2 linked regions of the Homo sapiens genome follow. The protein of the gene in region 2 interacts with the protein of the main gene of each other region in a pairwise test. Each region holds a gene or a part of one and is shown on either strand. Other genes may lie near its edges.

Evidence for each region. The genes of interacting proteins can lie anywhere in the genome.
Region 1: the proteins of RTP4 (region 2) and TAS2R10 interact in binary tests that used the Homo sapiens proteins (3 or more experiments, as listed by UniProt).

The regions. Positions count from the first base shown.
Region 1 is NC_000012.12:10,824,681-10,830,855, forward strand, and holds TAS2R10 (taste receptor type 2 member 10), read right to left. Parts: upstream 1,679-6,175; 5' UTR 1,590-1,678; coding exon 666-1,589; 3' UTR 539-665; downstream 1-538. UniProt on the Homo sapiens protein: Gustducin-coupled strychnine receptor implicated in the perception of bitter compounds in the oral cavity and the gastrointestinal tract. Signals through PLCB2 and the calcium-regulated cation channel TRPM5.
Region 2 is NC_000003.12:187,364,501-187,371,384, forward strand, and holds the start of RTP4 (receptor-transporting protein 4), read left to right. Parts: upstream 1-3,884; 5' UTR 3,885-3,941; coding exon 3,942-4,096; intron 4,097-6,287; coding exon 6,288-6,873; 3' UTR 6,874-6,884. UniProt on the Homo sapiens protein: Chaperone protein that facilitates the trafficking and functional cell surface expression of some G-protein coupled receptors (GPCRs). Promotes functional expression of the bitter taste receptor TAS2R16.

The DNA.
Region 1 (6,175 bases), on a different chromosome or scaffold from region 2:
AATCACTGATTTTGAAGAGCATATTTATTTCATCAGTGTTTTGATCCCATATCCCTCAACTAGACCCTTGTTTCCCTAACTATATTTCACAGAACTACATCTACTCCTCTGACTACTTGCTACACATCGTACACCAGTAAAAAAGGATGTTAGATTCTAAAAAATGAAAAAAAAACCTTTAAATAATTAAAATAGCATTCTGTAAAGAAGTACCACCATCTATCCTCACTTCCATGTTCTAAATGTCAAGATTGATCTAATTTTCTTTCTTTCTTTTTTTTCCTTTGGGTTTTCTGGGAGAATGGGTGTCCTTGCTTCAGAAAAGTCAGGTAAAGCACAACAAGAAGTTTTATTTTAGAGCTTATTCTCACCGTTATAATCTTTACAGCGAATAGTCTCCAGGCTGATGGTCTTCCTCTAGGAAGTTTGTAGGAAGAAGTTGCAGGGTGGGGAAGCTGACTAAGCCACTGAATTTGCATGTGAGATTAAAATCTCCTCAAAGACTGAGATTCCCTGAAACATAGTCAAAACAATTATGGAAGATTTCAGTGATCTTTAATGACACAGTTAAAAAGACAATGCAAGAATGCAGTGCAATGAAACAGATCTTCAAGGATTTATTCACTGGATTCCTTTCGTGGAACATCCATCTCTTCCCAAGGTGTCTATGTGACTCTGAGATTTTTCCTTTTCTCACAGCACTTCAATTGCTGCAGTACCCTCAAAGAGGCTTGCTTTAGCTTGCTGTTTCCTAGAATTAAGATAAATGAGTGACCCCAGGGATAGATGGCTGTGGTTGTCATTCCAAACATAAGCAGCAGTTTGTTTTCTCGCACAGTAAAACATGATATTTCTATGGCCATGCCTATAAAATACAAGATAAAGAGGATGATGAAAGATATCAAAACTTTCATTGCCTTCACATGAGCTTCTGTGTTGGAGTCTCTCAATCCTGTCACATTCGATTGCATCTGCCTGTTGTGTCTCCAAAGGGAAATGATTAAAAAAATACATGTAATTAGGGATAGTGTAAAGAAGAAAATGACTCCCAGATTTAGCAAAATCTGTTTAATAAAGTATTCACTTTTATACATGTTGAGATCCCAGACTGTGTCATTCTTCGTTTTATAATCATTAAGAATCTTCGCAATGTATGCAAAATTAAGTAACGATGAAATAAGTAAGAATACTATCATGAAGGGAAGAACCATATTTGTTCTGCTCTTCAACCAGAGAAATATGTAGTTGGAAAAATTTGCTATCTTCAGGAAATAGAAGATGCTGAGGCTGGTGGCAAACCACATACTTGATTGATTACCAATTACCCAAAAGTAACTAATATATTCAATTAGGTTACCGGAGGCATATATATTTGGAGAGAATATCTGTATAAATCCATCTGTAATTATTATCCATATCAGAAAAATTCTTGAAATAGCTAAGCCGGTGAGAATAAAGCCAATCGTAGATAACTTATTCTTGGCACAGTCAATGCAGTTTACAAGTCCAATAAATCCATTCCCCAAAACCCCAAACACTGACTCACTAACTACAACAAAAATGAAGATGCCTTCCACTACACGTAGCATATCTGCTAATTCTTAATATTGCTTCTGTTACATCTATCTTAGATTACCTGCTGCAGAATGAGGCATATATTGGCTGCTCGACGGAAGTGTGACTTTCTTCTCTTTCATTATATAAAGACTTGAAATTGCCCCAGTAATGGCTTGAGATGGAATCAGAAATTTCTTAATGAAGACCTTTCCAAATATGTCTACAAAACATAGCTAGTCTGGAGAATGTATGTTCAGACTGAATGCCTATCTATAATTTGTTAAAATGCAAATGAAAGTTTCTGTTTCATGGATTTTACATGTCCTCCTGAGACTATTTTGCATTTAATAAATTGAATTGTGGAGGAGGAGTGCCAAACATATACCTATAGAATGTAATGCAAAACAGAAACAAAAATTTTGACTTTATCTTTTAAAATATCAAATCATTATTTATGTCATTTATAATCAATTTATATATGTACAGAAAATACTATATAGAAATGAAAAACAAATTTAGCCACTGTAGATACTTACTCTAAATGATCGATTTAATTTTTAATTAAAATTTAAGCTCAACTCTAGGTATGACAAGTTTCACAAATATGTCACAAATCTGTTGCTGTTGTTTTATACTTATGGTTATTACACCCTTGAATGCAGAAGATTATGTTGACTACCCTTGACATGAAAGGCTCTTAGGAATAATCTCTTCATTTAACACATTACTGTTTGCTGGCACCCATTCATTTATCCAACAAGTATTTACTGAATGTCTAGATACAACAAGCTCTCTTTTGATCTTTGAGGGAATATAGTGGTAGACAGAATTTCAAAACTTGTGTGATTTATGGAGTGTATATTCTAATGAGGGAGGTGGGAAACAATTAAGTAAATCAACATACTGATCTAAGAATTAAAAGTGAAATTAAAAGTGAAATCTAACATTTATTGAGCTTTTATTATATTCCTAGCGCTATGTTAAGTATCTTTTTCTCATCTTAATTTCACAAGCCTTCAATCCTTTAAAAGAGGGGCTATTTTTGTATTTACATTAAATATGAATAAACTAAGCTTTGGAGAAAAGAAGACCTTCTCTCACTTATCCTGGCATGACTACCATAAATAAAATTGCACAATGATTTCAAAATGAAGTTAAATTAAGCTTAGGAATAGACTACAAATGATAGCAAAACAAAACAAACCAACCAAAAGCAAGTAGAAAACTTAAATTCTCATGGGCTGCACATACTGAAATTGACAGATAAGAATATGTATAGATAAATTAGCTAATGTATACACTGTTTACAAAAAACAAGATGCAATTTCAGAGAAGAGCAGCAAGAGACTGTTAGAAAGAAATTGGAACATTTGGGGAAAAAACTTCTAGAAATGGAGAATATAATTATATAAAATGTAAATGAACTAAATACTCCAAGTAAAAAATTAATAGTAACAAAGAAGAATTTAAAACTCTGACTGTATACTGCTTACAAGAAACACAATTTAAATATAGAAAAGGAAAACTTTAAAGTAAAATTATGGAAAAATAAGCCATGCAAACATCATCCAAAAGAAATCTGGCATAATTATAACAATATTCTATAAAGCAGACTTTAAGGTAAGAAGCAGCATTAGAGAAGAAATGGGGAGTGTACTTTATAGTGATAAAAATGCTCAAATCTACAGAAAGGTAGGGTAATCCCAAAAATTTATGAACCAAATAATCTACCAAACATTTACAGAAAAGGAAAAATAAGACAAATCTACAATCACAATGAAAGACTGTAAAATACATAACTCAATAACTCATCTTAGAAACACCAAAAATCAATAGATGGAAAATACATGAAAAAACAATTGACAAACTTGTGTTCAACGGTAAAATAATTCATATTCTTTTCAAGTGCACATAGACTATTTTTACCAAGACTGATCATGAATCCAAAAGAATATCTCACAAGTGTTGAATGTTCTCTGAATTCAAAGGAATAAAATGAAGTTCAATAATAAAAAGATAACTAGAGAAAGAAACAATTTACTAAGACAAAAAACCTGTAAATACTCTTGAGTCAAAGAAGAAATAACAAAAATTACAAAAATATTTTTAAGTAAATAATACAGGTTGTGTATCCCTTATCTGAAATGTGTGAGACCAGAGAGCTTTGGATTTCGGATTTTTTTTTCTTTTTTTTTAAGTTTTGGAACATTTGCATCATACTGATTAAGCATCTCGAATTCAAAAATTTGAAATCCAAAATGTTCCAATGAGCATATCCTTTGAGCGTCATGTCAGCGCTCAAAGAGTTTCAGATTTTGGAGCATTTCAAATTTCAGATTTTTGGATTAGGGATACTCAACGTGTAATAAAGAAATGACCTATTAAAATTTACATAATCCAATTAAAGCCATTCTTTGAAGGAAATTTGTAGCCTTGAATGCATCTTTTAGAAAGGCAGGGTAAAAACAGATGAATTTTGTTTTCATCTCAAGAAGCTAGAAAGCTAAGAGTGAAAGAAAATAGAAGTCAAGAAATTATAGTAACAGCAGAAATCACCGATAGAAAAGAATTAGGTACAGTAATATACTAATGTTGGTCAAAAGAAAATACAAATTACTACAGTCCTTAGAGATATCAGAAATATGGCCTGGGTGTGGTAGCTAATGCCTGTCATTTCAGCACTTTGGGAGGCCCAGGTGTGAGAATCACTTGAGTCCAGGAGTTTGAGACCAGCCTGGGAAACATAGCAAGACCTTATCTCTACTAAAAAAAATAAATAAATAAAAATAATTTAGCAGGGCATGGTGGTGTGCACCTGTAGTCCCAGCTACTTGGGAGGCCGAGCAGGAGGATTGCCTGAGCCCAGGAGTTTGAACTTGCAGTGAGCTATAATTGGGCCACTGCACTCCAGCCTGGGTGACAGAGTGAGACCTCATCTCTCTCTCTCTCTTTCTCTGTCTCTCTCTCTCTCTCTCTATACATACATATATATACATATATATATATACATATACATATATATATATATATAATACTATATAATATAGTTACATATCCTTGTATATAATCTTTTATTATAAGACAATACTGTGAACAACTTTATACAAAATTTCATCAAGAATACTTATAAGACTATTACAGGCTAATATAGCCTGAACATAGATGCAAAAATTCCAAACAAAATAGAGTCCAGCGATATATAAAAGAATAATTCATTATAACAAATGGAGTTTTAAAAGCCAATTGTGAGATTAAAATGAAATAATTGAAGATACAGTCAATTAACACAAAAGAAAGCCAGAAAAAGGACAGAGGGACAAAAATAAGTGAGATAAATGAAAAACATTGAGCAAAATGCAAGACTTACAGCCAACCATACTGATAATTACATTAAACATGATTTGACTAAACACTCTGATGAAAAGATAGAGATCATCAGAATGAATAAATGAAAGCACAATTAAATGTTATGCCTAGAAGATAAAACATTAAACATAAAGGCACAGATAGATTGAATGTAAAGGAAAGAAAAAGCTATACTATGGAATTTGTAACCATAGAAAGCAGGACTGGTTCTATTCTCAAAGTGGCTATATTATCAAGACAAGTAGTAGAAAAATAGAGGGAAGTTGTATAATGATAAAATATTCAATTTATCAAAAATACTTAACAATCCTGAAGGTGTATCAGACTAATAATTGTGACTCAAAATAAATAAAGCAAAATTAACAGAACTAAAGCAAGTGATAGGCATAGCAAAGATTTAAAAACCCCTTTGCTGTGATCTGCATGTGTCTCCTCCAAAGTCTATATGTTGAAACTTAATTGCCAGTGTGCCAGTATTAAGAGATGGTTCCTTTAGGAGGTAATGAGGGCAGACCTCTCATGAATGAGATTAATGACCATTTTGATGTGCATTCTAGGTATGTTAACTCTACATGCCTTAGATTGTGCAATAGTAACTGGGCTCTTATGAAAGGGTTTTAACAACTTCCACAAGTTCTAGACTAATTTCTGCAGTTACATCAGCAGCAAAAATATTCACAAAAACAATGGTGCCACTGCATTTCAGCCTGGGCGACAGAGTGAGACTCCATCTCAAAACAAACAAACAACAAACAAAAAACATAAAGTAACTGGCTAAATCCATATTATTACAGAGACAAGATTGTTACCTAGAGGAAATAAGTGGTTTTCATTCTATTTTGCTTACTTCTGTTAAATTTCTAACATCCACCTTCTGTAGATCTGAATGAGTGGATTACAACTTATTCACACCTCTTTTTTATATATAGGTGATTATTTTCTCTTTAAAATATTTTAAAAACTATTTTAGAGGTCAGTCCTGGCCCAGGAAGAATTTATTTATTTTATTTTATTTATTTATTTATTTATTTATTTATTTATTTATTTATTTATTTATTTATTTTTGAGACAGAGTCTCTCTCTGTCGCCCAGGCTGGAATGCAGTGGCGCGATCTCGGCTCACTGCAAGCTACACCTCCTGAGTTCACGCCATTCTCCTGCCTCAGCCTCCCCAGTAGCTGGAACTATGGGCACCCGCCACCACGCCTGGCTAATTTTTTGTATTTTTAGTAGAGACGGGGTTTCACCGTGC
Region 2 (6,884 bases):
ATCCTTAGAATCTCTGAAGAGATCTTTTTGTATGCTAATGAAATGACAGGTGGCCGGCAGCTCCTAGGTCGCTTCAGGATGAGAGCTGGTCGCCAGAAAGTTCCAGGCAGAATTAGAGTGTTGGGACTTTCAGTCTCATCCCCTAATCTCTAAGGCTGAAGACTAAGTTCATCACCAGTGGTCATAGTTTAATCAATCATGCCTGCGTAATGAAGTCTCCATAAAAGCTCCAAATGGACAGGGTTCAGACAGCTTCAGGATAGCCCAACACAAGGAGGCTCCTGGAGGATAGTGTGCCCAGGGTGGGCTTCCATGCCCCTTCCCATACCTTTCCGTATGCATCTCTTCATCTGTATCGCCTTTAATACCTTTATAATAAACTGGCACACATAAGTAAGTGTTCTTCTGAGTTCCATGAGCCACTCCAGCAAATTAATCGAACTTAAGGAGGGAATCCTAATGTATAACCAGTTGGTCAGAAGCACAGGTAAAATAACATGGGGCTTTCAACTGGCCCCAAGCCCCAGCCTGAAGTTGTAGGGGAACAGTCTTGTGGACTGGGCCCTCCACCCTTGGGATCTCATGCTGGGTTGGGGTAGATAGTATTAGAACTGAATTGAATAAGAGGTCATCTAGTTGGTGTCCTCTGCAGAATTAAGTGACTGCTTGCTTGGTGAGGAAACTCCCCACATATTAGGTTAGAAGTCTTTTGTGTTGATTGCTACTGAGTGACAGAATAGAAAAAGCACTTTGAGTGTGTTTCTTCAACACATGTTACCCTTAATCTTCCTGCTGAACCCCCATGCAAAGGACCAGGCTGACCTGAACAATTGGGTATATCAAAGGGCACACATGAAGAAGAGGCAGAAGGAAATCATGAAGGCATGCAATGCGCCGGATCAAGCTACCTTTTGGGAAAAACAGAGCATTTGAGGTGTCAGGGGTAAGGGGACTCTCTGAAGGTACACTCTGAAGATACAGAATAAGTAGAGTGGACTTGGGATCCTAAACCCAGCGGAAAGTGAAGAGAAAGGGTAGAGAAATGATTTATGCATGGGTGGAGCAAGAGAGCAGAACTTGAAGCCAGGCCCTGTATTGGCACTAATTTGCTGTGTGACCTTAGGCAAGAGACCTTATTCCTCTGGGTCTCAGTTTTCTTTTCTCTTTTTTTTTTTTTTTTTTTTGAGACGGAGTTATGCTCTTGTCACTCAGGCTGGAGCGCAATGGCATGACCTCGGCTAACTGCAACCTCTGCCTCCTGGGTTCAGGCAATTCCCCTGCCCTGGCCTCCCAAGTAGCTGGGATTACAGGCATGCGCCATCATGCCTGGCTGACTTTGTAATTTTTAAAGTAGAGATGGGGTTTCATCATGTTGGTCAGGTGGTCTCAAACTCCTGACCTCAAGTGATCTACCCTCCTTGGCCTCCCGAAGTGCTGAGATCACAGGCGTGAGCCACGGTGCCCAGCCTCAGTTTTCTCGTGTATAAAAATTAAAGGGAAAAGGGATAAGTTGATTTCTAAGGGTTTTCCCAACTCTAACATCCTGTGGATCCAATTACAAGTTCTTAGAGCTTCCTATATCATGTGTATAGACACAGGTATCCAGGAAGGGAAGGAAAGAGAGAGGGTGTCTCTGAGTCGCTGACAGGGCACATGGAAGCCTAGAAAACCCAGGAAGACTGAGGCTGATCCTGTCTCAGACACAGAAGCTGTAGCGGGTGTTCTAAAGACCTAAGTAAGCATCCTGCTTGTCCTATCTCCCCTATTTGAATTTAAGCCCCAGGAGGACAAAGCTTACTCTCTGGAATCTCCGCGTTTTAGACTTACAAGTGTCTTTAAAGGTCATCTCATCTCAATCCCTTACCCCAAAATGGGAATTCTCTGTATCCTACCACTGAAAGACGGCCCCCACACCTGTGCGTATTTGCCCTTCCACATAATTTACAGAGTGGAGGGCAGAGTTTGATAATCCCTTCATGCAGCTGACCTCCTGCCTCAGGACCCAGGAAATCTCCCTACGGTTCCTCTGACACTGGCTCCAGTGTGCCAGCCTGGAACCTGAAATGCCATTCTCAGCTTCTCTTCAGGGAGTGAGGTGGGCGGACACATGGCAGGTTTTGGAGTCACACAGACCCGGGTTCAAGTCTCACTTCCACTGCTCGTTAACTGAGGGGATTTGGACAAAGTACCCCAGCTTTCTGTGCAGTTAACCTGCAAAACTCCAAGAATAATCCTTCGCGGGACTGGTGAGGATACATGGGGTGTAGGAGATGAGCATTAAACACGTGCTCCCCTACGCTGCTCCTAACCTCCCTGTCTCCACCTGGGTGTGAGCATCTGTGGGGGCAGGAATTGTTTCTTAGCTACAGGATACTCTTTTCCCAGTGCCAAAAACAGTGCTTTTGTGTCCGGAATTGGTGGGTTCTTGGTCTCACTGACTTCAAAAATGAAGCCACCGACCCTCATGGTGAGTGTTACAGCTCATAAAGGCACAGTGCCCAGAGTTTGTTCCTTCTGATGTTCGGATGTGTTCTGAGTTTCTTCCTTCTGGTGGGTTTATTGTCTTGCTGGCTCAAGAGTGAAGCTGCAGACCTTCCGGGTGAGTGTTAACAGCTGATAAAGGCAGAGCAGACCCAAACACTGCGCAGCAGCAAGATTCATTGCAAAAACCAAAAGAACAAATCTTCCACCACGTGGAAGGGGACCCGAGCCGGTTGTCAGTGCTGGCTGGGGCAGCCTGCTTTTATTCTCTTATCTGGCCCCACCCACATCCTGCAGATTGGTCCATTTTACAGAGAGCCAATTGGTCTGTTTTACAGAGAGCTGATTGGTCCGTTTTGACAGGGTGCTGATTGGTGCATCCACAAACCCTGAGCTAGACACAGGGTGCTGATTGGTGCATTTACAAACCTTGAGCTAGATACAGAGTGCCCATTGGTGTATTCACAATCCCTTAGCTAGACATAAAGGTTCTCCAAGTCCCCACTAGACTCAGGAGCCCAGCTGGCTTCACCCAGTGGATCCCGCCCCGGGGGCAGCAGGTGGAGCTGCCTGCCAGTCCTGCGTGTGTGCCCGCACTTCTCTGCCCTTGGGCGGTCGATGGGACCAGGCACCATGGAGCAGGGGGTGGCACTCGTCGGGGAGGCTTGGGCCATGCAGGAGCCCAGGGTGGGGAGACTCAGGCATGGCGGGCTGCAGGTCCCGAGCCCTGCCCCACAGAGAGGCAGCTAAGGCCCAGCGAGAAATCGAGCTCAGTGCCGGTGGGCCGGCACTGCTGGGGGACCTGGCGCACCCTCCGCAGCTGCTGGCCCAGGTGCTAAGCACTTCACTGCCCAGGGCTGGGGGCCTGCCGGCCGCTCCGAGTGCAGGGCCCGCCAAGCCCACGCCCACCCAGAACTCTAGCTGGCCTGCAAGCCCTGCATGCAGCCCCGGTTCCTGCCCGTGCCTCTCCCTCCACATCTCCCAGCAGGCTGAGGGAGCCGGTTCTGGCTTTGGCCTACCCAGGAAGGGGCTCCCACAGTGCAGTGGCTGGCTGAAGGGCTCCTCCAGCGCGGCCAGAGTGGGCACCGAGGCCGAGGAGGCTCCGAGAGCGAGCGAGGGCTGCGAGGGCTACCAGCATGCTGTCACCTCTCACTTTGCCTATTATAAAAAATGAGAGAGAGAAAATAAAAGCGAATTTATATGTGACCCCAGAATCTAGAACAGAGCTCTTTATCTCTCTCTCAGCAAGGCCTATTAACTAACACAGTTTTGCTGCTGTCTGTTTTCAGAACAAAGACTTGTTCTGTGTACTCAGACAGTCTAAAATGAAGGTTGAAAAAAACAGCTCATGTCCATACACAGAAACAGAAACTGAACCGAACACCGAAACTGAAACTGTTTGTCTCTTCCTGAGAAACGAGCAAACCTGAAAGCTACTCTCTCAGCTTCAGAGGGAAAAAATGGTTGTAGATTTCTGGACTTGGGAGCAGACATTTCAAGAACTAATCCAAGAGGCAAAACCCCGGGCCACATGGACGCTGAAGTTGGATGGCAACCTTCAGCTAGACTGCCTGGCTCAAGGGTGGAAGCAATACCAACAGAGAGCATTTGGCTGGTGAGTGTGGGTTTCCCAGGCAATAGCTCTTCTGAGAAGAGAGGCTCAGGCTCAGCTTAGCATGATTTATTCCTCTGAGAGCTTGTTGAAGGAGTAAATGTCACCAGGGCCTCCATCCTATTGTGGTCATAGTACTCTTTAGGGTCGACATGATAAGACGACTCCAAACCTCCATTTTGTTTAACTGCTGGAAGTTTCTTCTTTTACTAGGTTTCCCTCCGTAAATATTTCTGGAAAACCCTGGAGAAGGCTCCCTATTCCATAAATTTTCCCTTCTAGTTTCTCACCACGTCATTTGTTCCAGACTACCTCTAGAGTCTTTTGCAGTCTCCCCAGCAGTCCTGACCAGCTTCCCCCAGCTGCACCAGCTCTCCAAGCCTTGGCACTGTTCAGTACAAGCCTGGGACGGAGCCTTTTTTTTTTTTTTAAATATCTTAAGAATTGGCTAAGATCAAGCAGTTACTCTGAACATTGCTTTACTGAAGGCCTGGGGATAATAGTATAGAATGATGTTGCAAAAACTAAATCTAAAACCCAGTTCATGGAGTCACCAAGTAATACTCCTCCCTTACTCACCACTTCCCTCTTTAACCCCCAGCAAGCCTCCAGGTTGCAGGAACCAGTTTCCTTGACCATGTTAGGAGGGTGAGAATTGCTGACCTGGATAATCAAATTTATTTTTAAATGACACACAGGACCTTCGGTATAGTTTTCATCTGACCTATTACTCAGCTTGCCTGCCTGCCCCATCCTGCCTCAGGTATGGCCTACTCCATTCCTTATGGACTATTAGCTATGCCATGCATCTTCAGACTTCCACACTCTTGTTCATGGAGTTCTGCTTGTTCAGCAGACCCTCCCCTCACCCCTCCCTGCTCATCCTTCAAGGCCCACTCTAGTGCCTCCTCCTCCTAAAAGCATTCTCTGGTTCTCCTAGGCAGAGTAAGTATTCCTTCGTATACATTCCCATAAGATAATGGGATAAGATAAAATATATATGTATATGTATACATAAATGATATATAATTATATATACATATGTACTATGTATTTCAGAATAATAAATTTATAAATAATATATGTATTATTATATATTGTATCAAATACAGTATATGCTTATTTTTAGCTGCAGAATCTGTTGTTTAAATAAAGCCTCCTAAACGTCTCCAGAACAGTTCTCAAGTCACTTGTCAGAGCCCGTATAGCAGTCATGTTGCTCTGCTTTCTAATCCAGGGAAATGTGTAAATATTTCTGTCCACACCAGCCAGAGCTTTTTGAGGGACTCATGATGTCTTACAACGTTTTGGCACTCCTCCAAACAGAAAGAAGGTGTTTCTCCTGTTGGGATGATTTGATTTGATTGTCATTTCGAGATCGGAAAAGCAACCTACCAGTGTACTTTTGGAAAATATCAATCAGCTTTTGAAAAGCATTTTGTAGTTTACAAAGTGTTTTCACATACATCGTCTCTTTTGATGCTGCCAATATAACCCTTGAATTTTTTTTTTATGGATTCAAACAATGAGGGTTATAGAAGGGAAGGGCTTTGCCCAAGGTCTTCCTGATGTAAACTGGATCTTCAACCCAGGTATGAGGGATGCAGTCTGTTTCTCCAGGTGTGAGAGATTAGCTACACTACTCACCAGAGGCAACGTGTTACAGCAGGTAAATGAGTTGAATTTCAGATGGCCTGAGATTAGCAGCATGCCTCTAACATTTACCCTGTGTGTCCTTAAGCAGGTTGCGTATCCTTTTCATGATTCAGTTTCCTTATCTGGATATTGGGTTTAATAGTGCTTACTTCACAGATGAAATGGGATAAAATTATAAAGACCAATTATATTGTATGCATCAAAATAGATACTTTACCAAAGCTTTCTATGACCAAAATTAGGAATAAGTTTCTCTGGAAGATGGCAGACATGATTTTCCCTCAGAGGCATCTGGAGATGTTTTACTAGCAAAGAGGTAGACTTGGGTGTAACATATGGGTGGATACTCAGTAGGTCACAGGAAAAAGCCTTATCTGAAACATAGTCCTTCTTGTTCCTGTTTATCAATGACTGGGACAATCTAAATCACATGCATTTTTTCAAATGGAAAAGGATGTTAGTGACAGGGGCCAAGACCATTTTCCCTCAGGTTAACAACCAGATGAAGGCATAATGGGTGTCTTCCTTCTGACTGCAGGTTCCGGTGTTCCTCCTGCCAGCGAAGTTGGGCTTCCGCCCAAGTGCAGATTCTGTGCCACACGTACTGGGAGCACTGGACATCCCAGGGTCAGGTGCGTATGAGGCTCTTTGGCCAAAGGTGCCAGAAGTGCTCCTGGTCCCAATATGAGATGCCTGAGTTCTCCTCGGATAGCACCATGAGGATTCTGAGCAACCTGGTGCAGCATATACTGAAGAAATACTATGGAAATGGCACGAGGAAGTCTCCAGAAATGCCAGTAATCCTGGAAGTGTCCCTGGAAGGATCCCATGACACAGCCAATTGTGAGGCATGCACTTTGGGCATCTGTGGACAGGGCTTAAAAAGCTGCATGACAAAGCCGTCCAAATCCCTACTCCCCCACCTAAAGACTGGGAATTCCTCACCTGGAATTGGTGCTGTGTACCTCGCAAACCAAGCCAAGAACCAGTCAGCTGAGGCAAAAGAGGCTAAGGGGAGTGGGTATGAGAAATTAGGGCCCAGTCGAGACCCAGATCCACTGAACATCTGTGTCTTTATTTTGCTGCTTGTATTTATTGTAGTCAAATGCTTTACATCAGAATGATGAAAATAGGC